Homo sapiens: one gene and its partner. The protein of the gene in region 1 purifies or fractionates together with the protein of each later gene. This does not show direct contact. Each region holds a gene or a part of one and is shown on either strand. Other genes may lie near its edges.

The links.
Region 2: the proteins of CD96 (region 1) and NIPSNAP2 purify together in Homo sapiens (affinity purification with mass spectrometry, with the first as the bait; one large-scale study listed by BioGRID). This does not show direct contact.

The regions. Positions count from the first base shown.
Region 1 is NC_000003.12:111,539,992-111,545,913, reverse strand, and holds the start of CD96 (T-cell surface protein tactile isoform 2 precursor), read right to left. Parts: upstream 3,718-5,922; 5' UTR 3,666-3,717; coding exon 3,605-3,665; intron 869-3,604; coding exon 512-868; intron 1-511. UniProt on the Homo sapiens protein: May be involved in adhesive interactions of activated T and NK cells during the late phase of the immune response. Promotes NK cell-target adhesion by interacting with PVR present on target cells.
Region 2 is NC_000007.14:55,997,180-56,000,679, forward strand, and holds the end of NIPSNAP2 (protein NipSnap homolog 2), read left to right. Parts: intron 1-186; coding exon 187-270; intron 271-1,828; coding exon 1,829-1,893; 3' UTR 1,894-3,000; downstream 3,001-3,500. UniProt on the Homo sapiens protein: Protein involved in mitophagy by facilitating recruitment of the autophagy machinery required for clearance of damaged mitochondria.

The sequences.
Region 1 (5,922 bases):
AAATAGAAACCTTTTAAAAGGGAAGCTGACCAGGTCCAACATGATCTGGTCCTTACCTGCCTTATCCTTTAATTGCTGTATTGCTGTCCCACTGGCATTTTCCCATTTCTTCAAACACTCCAAAGAGCTTCATGCAAGCTCTTTTCTCTCTCTGGGATTACTCACAATCCCACTCTGCCTCAGCCCCACCTCCTAAATTGTGGTAGTGTCTACTCATTCTTTAGACTTAAGCTATGGTGTTAATTTCTAAAGGACAATTTCAATGGCCTCTGTGATGTGCTCCTTCACAAGACTGTTACAGTATTTATTATCGACACTTATCACTGTTGCAAGTTTACATTTATTTACTTAAATGCTGTGGTCACTTCCTGTCTCTCTTATCAGACAGTAGCTCTTTCTGCTCAACCTTTGTATGCTGAGCACCAAGCCTAACCTTGCTTTTCTTAAAATGTACATTTGTTGAATGAGAGAGAGCTGAATGAAAGCACATCCCTCTACCAGTTATGCTTACCGTGTGTCTGAATGAGAAGGTTGTAGATTTTAGTCTGAATGCCCTCTGGATACAGAACAAGCATACACTCGTACCTTCCACTGACTGAACAAGACATATTCCTTAAGTGCAGAGTCCATTTTGACCCATTCTCAGGAGTTTCTGTGAAAGTCACAAGTGACTCACAGGGTCTCCCATAGGCACAGTAGAAGCCGTATTGGGGATGATAGACAGCAATCAGGTCTATCTTATTGGTGACCTTGGACCATTGCATCTGCACGAAGAAGCCTACTGTCTGTGTTTGGCAGGTCAGGTTGACATCAGAGCCAAGTGTAGCATAAACATTTTCTTCTGTGTTGACTGTTTTTTCCCAAACTCCTGAAAAGAAAGAACATGAGCCATGAGTTTAAATAATTCACATAGAATGACGCTTAATTAAAAACCCTAGTCACTTCAGTAAGGTGAGGGGAGCAACTGAGGAAATTTCTCCCTGGCTGCTTTAGGAATAGAGTAGAGCTTGTGTCTCACTCAGATAGAGATGCATGAGACAATATAAATGAGGAGGCATTTACGTAGAGAAGCTAGAGGTAATTACTGACTTCTAAATATTTATCTATGTGTTGGTCTGACCAAAATATAATTGAAGGTTTCAGACTACCTGTGAATAAAATTAAGCCTATTTGAAAATTGAAGCACACCAGCAAACTTAGTATGACGATTCTTCTTACGTTTAATATAATTGGCTTTTTGGGTTATAAAACGACAGCTGAATATAATACACACGTGATGCTTTCTGAAACTGCAAAAATAAATGATATGTGTATAGCAATTTCTTTGAAAAATACATGTTTACAAGGGCCTTTCATATCTTATCTTGTTTAATCCCCCTCACACGCCATAGGTGATGTTGTTAACCCCTTTTTATGAGGAAGAAACTGGGCCACAGAGAGATGAAACAGTATGCTCAAAGTCACACCTCCAGGCCTGGCGCAGTGGCTCACGCCTGTAATCCCAGCACTTTGGGAGGCTGAGGTGGGCAGATCATGAGGTCAAGAGAACCAGACCATCCTGGCCAACACGGCAAAACCCCGTCTCTACTAAAAATACAAAAATTAGCTGGGCGTGGTGGTGCACGCCTGTAGTCCCAGCTACTTGGGAGGCTGAAGCAGGAGAATCGCTTGAACCTGGGAGGCGGAGATTACAGTGAGCCGAAATCATGCCACTGCACTCCAGCCTGGCAACAGAGTGAGACTCCATCTCAAAAAAACGAAAAACGAAACAAAACAAAAAAAGTCACACCTCCAGTAAAAGAATGAATTCAGTTGCCCAGAGTCTGTGGTCTTTCTATAACCCTCATAAGTATAACAGTAAAACTCCAGCCAAGGAAGACAAAGAGACCTTTAGAGACCAAAGAGAACTTTATTTAATTCAGGCATCCAGGCCCACAGCAGACTCATGCCCAAAATGGCTGCTGACTCTGACAAAGAAAGCAGGCTTGCTTATATGTCGTTTGAGGTGGGAAAACAAGGCAGGATACAGGTTTCAGGCAAAGACAGTAAATTATTTAACCCGTGACAATTCTGAGAAAACTTACAATTTAGTTATCTTAACCAGTCAATCTTGAAGCTAGACAGAGATGGGGTAAGGTAAAACAGGAGTTACAGAAATATGTGGGGGTCTGGGGGCAGGCAAGAAGCTTGGAAGGTTGAGATAAGCTCACAGCTGCAACTTGTTAGCAATGCTGGGAGGGGCTACTTAAATTTCTTAGCCTACATATAACTTCTAAGTAACCTATACTTAATGTTAACTATTACCTATGTTATGCTTATTATTTTAAACTTTATTATTACTTATTTTATTTTATTTTCCTTCCACATAACTTCCAAACTGTCTCCCAAATTCAGTCTAGTTGATTAGAGTAAGAAATTTCACTTTCAATATACAAGGATTGAAAGGACCTCATCTAACCTTAGGTAGAGGTTCCACTTAGTATCACCTCTAATCGATGGTCTGAAATACTAGACATAAGTAGAGTCTCTTTCCCATCAGCAGTCTGACTGAGTGATACAGGACACTTAAAATGTGTTAAGCATTGAGACTGTGACATGCCTTCAATAGTGTTGGCCTCAGTTTTAGAATTAACATGGAATCCTGTTACAGAAATGATATATATTATTGTGACAAGTACCACTGAAGCTCACAAAAGGAAAAGATAAAAAGATGACAAGCAACTGAGAAGAAACAAGCCTCTTAAAAGTAAAAGTACTTGACAAATGGGAATTATCATACTTCTGTGGATGCAAAAGTTTGGTAGGCAGAGGTTAGTACAGTTTAATGTAACTTCCTGTGAGCTATCCTTTGCCTGAAAATATGGCTCTGATCCTATCTACAGCATTATATTCCAAATCTCTTTTGATTTAGAAATTCTCCTTAATATTTTCATAGCTATGTCTGAAAAGCACAGTTAATTCTTAAGACACTCAGGCTTACTATGATACTCTCATACTGTGGAATACAGAACTAATCTTGCTTCCTTCTCTTTTTAAATAGGCCCATTAGGCTCTCGTTCCCACTGTCATAAGGATTCCACTTTGTCTCCCAGGTTCATACCTACACATGCCTCATTAAAATTCAACGTGTTTTCAACTCCCAAAGACCTTAGTATTTGGATGAGAAATACTTGTTATATCCAAAAGAAAGAGAGTACTTGAGAGAGAAAAAAGTTAAACAAGGATCTCTGAGCGTTGATGGCTTTGTAATTTTTAATTTTTCCGCAGTTGTTTTGGCTACCATTTGGAGAGCATTTCATTTCCAAGAAACACAATTTGCCAATTACTCCAGAGATCCTGTTAGAAAGGAAATGGGTGAAAATGCCTCAGAGCAGTGGCACAAATGACCCATTCCCTTCTTATTTTTAGTGTTCATTAGTAATCATTTCTAGATTCTAGCATCTCTCTTATACCTGCCGCTTAAATACATAACTGAAACCCTTAGTAATGATTTGTCCTTTGGTGATCAATTTCAGCAGCAGTCACAAGGCATTTTAAATGAACAGAGGCCCCATCCGCCCCTAAAGCGGCCCATCCGACAAGAAGGGACAACTGGAAGTCTTACCCTTGACAAAATGTATCTGGATGATGTAATAGACAGCACAGTATTTCCATTTTTTCTCCATTGTCTTCTGAACACCTTACACCAGCATTTCTGTAATGATCACAAAGTCAATTGATGTTTTCAAGCAAACTCCAGCCACCCACTTCGTGCTAAAAAACCCGAACTCTACCACACACGCCTGGGTCTGTTTATCACTTGGCAAGCCCCCAGGAAATGAAACGTAGACAGGAAAGTAATGTGGTTCAGGACTGAGTATAACGTTCGACAGAACAATGTTGAAATTGTTCTCTGAAATTTGTGTATCACCTTATTTAAGAGACTTTTCAGTATCCAAAGAGTCTCTTATTCAGGATCTCTGTGTCAGTCAAGCTGCGTCTAAAATCCAAACAAAGGATATCACGCAGAGCAGTTGGCAATGTGCTTTTTATACATTTTTTTCAAGAGCACAAAGTCATTTAACAAATGTGAGCTTGGTGTTTTTCATAATAGTTTTTCTGTTCAATCTTAAGATATGTTTTCTTTCCAGAATTGCCCTGGGGTGAAAGAACAAAGAATTAACACATTTAATTTTAATAAAATCTGAAAAGTAACAGGGAATAGTGTCAGCTATCAAACCAAATTTTATTGTCTCTCCTCTTGCAGGGAAATGCACATTTCCTGGGAGTGGAGGAGTGAGGGCTACTTTTCTACCCCTCGTCTGGGAAGACGAGGGAAGGTTGGAGGTCAGATAGGGAAGTCTCCCACCAGGTTGGCTGGAGGCCATTTTTGTTCACCACAGAAGAGTTTATCCATGCCTAAGCCAAAGCAAGGCAGTAACAATCAGAATCCAAAGGCAGAGAATTCCCACCTCAGTGAGCTATTAGGCTTATTACATCTGCCTAGTTACTTCTATTTACAGAGAACCGCAAACAGGTTTCAGGAAAGTGACCCCTTGGTAAAAATGTCTGGCTATTCGTAGAACACGATGACTGTTCCCTGCTATGATTCTCTGATTTAATTGTATTAGTTTTTCAGCCTGAGATAAAATAGGCTGTCATCACCCTCCAACATTAAGAAAACAAGCATTAGACTGAGGACTACTGTAAGTTTGATGGACAAAGAATAACTACAAATAAACATGTGTGTCTTCATACAACCGTATGAATGATTAAAATATCCTGTGACCCTAATCTCATTACTAGAATATACGTACCACCTAGCAAGACCAAAGACAAATGAAAAGGCCAGTTGTAATCCTGAGATGGGAATTCTTTTCAGGTGAGGTGGAGATAATTTTCGTCAGGTTGTCATCATGTATACACCAATCTCTCCTATGCAAGGACTCGTGGTGAATATGGACGATGCTAAGACAGAAGGAAATGCTTTTGCCATTCAGGAGATTAAATTTAGATGGGAGAAGAGAGGTTTTCATGTAAATAAACAAGGGCGACTGTCTTCCTGGACGTCCAGATCACCCCCTATACCACCACTGCAAATACTTGCCATGATAATTGCCATACTTATTCAGTATTCCTCAGCTAATGATTTCTTGCAGAATTTAGATGTAGTTACTGCTTGCCTAGTCCAGTGCTCCCCAAACCTTTATTATCACCCCTTCCCAACTTCCCATGAGTTTCAGGTCACTGGGGATATTGGGTCAGGTAGTACTGACAGTGATTTTCCAGGGAAGGCCTGGGAACTCAAAGTCCTTTATAGAAGGTCAGGAAGAGACATAACTGCTCTGGGTAGCTTCATCTCTTCCCATTGCCCCTGGAAATTCTAGTAAATCAAAGTTTTATGAAGCATAGCAGCAAAAATAGTCCTGGAGATGCACTATGAAGATCCTGATTTGCACGTTGGTGTCCCTATTAAATCAGGACACATTACAAGCCTGGAGAAGGGATTCTATGATCTCGTTCCATTTTTCATATTAAGAGGAATTTACCTAAGTAGAAACCAATTCAAATATACATTTATTGAATTCTCTAAGAACAATACCCTCTTTGGGGTATTTAGACTTCTCCTATCTTTTATTGTATTAAAGTGAAACAGTTGTTCCAAAAAAGTCTGTAAACTCAGAAACATGGAAATGGTCGTTTATTTTCCAGTGCTACAGACTTACTTTCAGTAGAATTCTTGCCTCTCATTGGGGTTGGGCTACCTGAGCCATGCATTTAGTGGCTATACGGCAAATCTGTCTTCTGTGTATTGTTCAGGGCTTAGTTAATGATTCTTATATCTAGAAACTTCTATGGCCTGAAGCCATCAGATTTGATTAATTTTTCTTTGGGATCCACACAGGTTCTGAAAGTATAACAATTTCAGATGCATGGCCACAG
Region 2 (3,500 bases), on another chromosome or scaffold:
AAAGTTTGCTTTTCCCACGTGGCCTAATATAATTTTGCTCAGAATTTCCCCAGCCCAGTATATTACACACCTGAAGTAGTCCCTGAGAAAACTAGATGTCCAGGTGAAGCAAGACTTTAACGGATGTATGGGTGGAATGCAGTGTATGTGTTTTAAGTCTTACTTCTCTGTGTGGTTATTTTTAAGCTTACAGGGATCTTCAGACCAGGGAAGACATACGGAATGCAGCATGGCACAAACATGGCTGGGAGGAATTGGTATATTACACAGGTAATCTCTTAACAGCCATGAAATATGCTTTTTGTCTTACTGTTTCAATCATGTTCTTTCACCCTGACACTAATAGGTGGGTTTTGTAATAGTATGTTGCTAGGATAGTGAGTTATCAGGTTGTGGGGGGAAGGGAGATAGTCAATTTTTCTCTAATACTTACATGACTTTTTTTCAATAAAGTAGAATATCCATGCTTTCAAATAGGTATATCATCTGTTACAGTTTTCAGACCCTTGGATGTTGTAAATTTTACATCATTACCTGTTTTTGTAGATTTCTATATTCTCTGAAAACTTATTACACAAATAAAATTTTTTTCTAAGCTTTCCTTTTCCATCAGAATTGTTAGTATCCCAAATCAGAACTTAATACATCAATTAAAGAGTGATTTTGAAATTAGATAAATTAAACTTCCTGTATGTACAGTATGTATCTGGGTACATAATACATGCATGTGCACATACATAAGTATATTATGAAACCCTGTTTGCTTGATTTTTAAAAGAAAACAGTTGGCTGAATGTAACCCAGTGGCATTGGTAGAGGTAATCAGTACCAGCCATGTTGCATGGCAAGTATATTTCAGGCCGGGCGCAGTGGCTCACGCCTGTAATCCCAGCACTTTGGGAGGCTGAGGTGGGCAGATCACCTGAGGTCGGGAGTTCGAGACCAGCCTGACGAACATGATGAAACCTGTCTCCATTTGAGAGACTGAGGCAGGAGAATCGCTTGAACCTGGGAGGTGGAGATTGTGCCACTGCACTCCAGCCTGGGTGACAGAGCAAGAATCCGTCTCAAAAAAAAAAAAGTGTATCTCAGCCCCTATACTACCAAGAAAATAAAAGAGTAATTTGTCCTAGAAAGTAGGTGTTACCTTGTCTTTCAGTTCAAGAGATTATATAACATATAATTACATGTTATAATTATATAATTGTATTTGATTTTGCTGCTTACGCGAACGTTTGAGAAATCACCATTTCTCCTCACAGTATGGACTTTTCCTACCTCCCACAAATAAAACAAATATCCAGGTAGGATCTGTTTTTTTTTTTTTTTTTTTTTTTTTTGAGACGGAGTCTTGTTCTGTCGCCAGGCTGGAGTGCAGTGACGCGATCTCGGCTCACTGCAACCTCCGCCTCCCGGTTTCAAGCGATTCTCCCGCCTCAGCCTCCTGAGTAGCTGGGATTACAGGCAGGCGCCACCACACCCAGCTAAGTTTTGTATTTTTACTAGAGACAGGGTTTCACCCTGTTGGCCAGGATGGTCTCGATTTCCTGACCTCGTGATCCACCTGCCTCAGCCTCCCAAAGTGCTGGGATTACAGGTGATCTGCGCCCAGCTGATCTGTTGTAATTTTAATAGCATCTTGTAGGATGGCAGCTGATACAGGGTCCGCTTGTATATTTCTGCCCTTGAGGTTAGTCCTGTATATTATGATATTCTCTTGTTTTCAAGCAGCACATCTGTGAACATTCTCGGCAATCTGTCTGTTAGTGTCATTTACCATAATGTGTTTAGAAAGTAACAAGTGCAGTAACCCTGATCTTGTTTTCAGTTCCACTTATTCAGGAAATGGAATCCAGAATCATGATCCCACTGAAGACCTCGCCCCTCCAGTAAAGCTGTAGAGTTTCTATGTGCCTACATACATTTCTGTGACAAGTATTTGTCGTAAATTAATTTTAATTGTGTATCAAGTGAAAAAGAAACACTGAGGTTTTAAGCTGCTGTATATAGCTTGTGAGAAACCTCTTTTCTTTAAAATTTACATAATCACAAGAAAGGAAAGAATTACAGTTGGACTGATTGTGACAGTGCCTTGTCGTCCTCTTTGAAACACCCCGTGTTGTCCAGTATACCTTATAACACTGAGCCACTTCTCCCCACCCTCCAGAAGGGGTCCACGTTGAATTCTGAATCATCTTGAAAATAAGATTCCAACCACAAAAAAAATTTAGCCATTTCTTTACTAAAAAAAACCAAAAAACAAATCTGTTTTATAATCACAGATTTTTAGACAAATTTCTTGTATCAGGAAGAAATACAAATTTTGTCATGTTTCTCAAGCAGTTTTTCTGAGTAGTTTCTGAGGAGGAACAAATTACAAGTGTACCCAATAACTGAAAATGTTTTAACTCACTCTCATTTGTAAGCAGTCCACATAGTAGACAATGGGTTTTCCAAGCTGGGCAAGGTACATTTAATCAGTAAATCAGTTTCACATCATGTATTGTGATGTTTCAATGTGAGACACAAAAACAATGGCTTGAAACTTGTGTATCATATGTGATTTTGAAATGAACACCTTGAATAGCACTAATTTTTATTTGTGGTATTTTTCTATAACAAAACAAGTAGCTCTAGGAAAAGAGGTTTTATTTTGTAAACGATCATTTGTGACCTCAGACACTCTCTGGCTAATATTTTAATAAGCTCACAGCAGATAATTCTGAGATCATGGGTGAGGGGTGGTGCATGTTGAGATTTAAATTGGCATAAAGCTGCATACTTTTTGTCTAGCTGTTTGATTTCATTTTTTAATATAGTATGCCAATTTTGTGACTGTTACCATGTGAAAGTCCTGTTGAAATGAACAATTGTCTGCCCCACAATCAAGAATGTATGTGTAAAGTGTGAATAAATCTCATATCAAATGTCAAACTTTTACATGTGAATGATTTTCTCAAAGAACATAGAAAAGTCAATAAAATCCTCTTAATTTCCACATATCACGTTTGGATTTTCTTTTTTAATTTGTTCTGAGATTGACAAACATTGCTGTGAATGACCTTGTCACTCTTGCAAAATAGCTTGTCACAAAAGATTGAAGGAAGTGAGGAAGTCAGCTGGCTTCTGGGGAAAATCCCTCCATAGGAACAAATTACGAGGCCCTGGGCAAGGTCATGCCTGGTATGTGCTGAGGGCAGCAGAAGCCAGTGGCAGAAGCAGACATGAGGGAGAGTGTGGTGGGACACGAGCTCAGAGGTCACAGGGCTGGATCCCTTGAGTGTTGGAGGCCATTAGAAAGACCCTAGTGGCCGGGCCCAGTGGCTCACACCAGTAATTCCAACACTTTGGGAGGCCGAGGCCAGAGGATCCCTTGAACGCAGGAGTTTGAGACCAGCCTGGGCAACATGAATGAAACCTCATCTCTACAAAAAATCGAAAAATTAGTTGGGCATGGTAGCATGTGCCTGTAGTCCCAGCTACTCAGGAGGCTGAGGCAG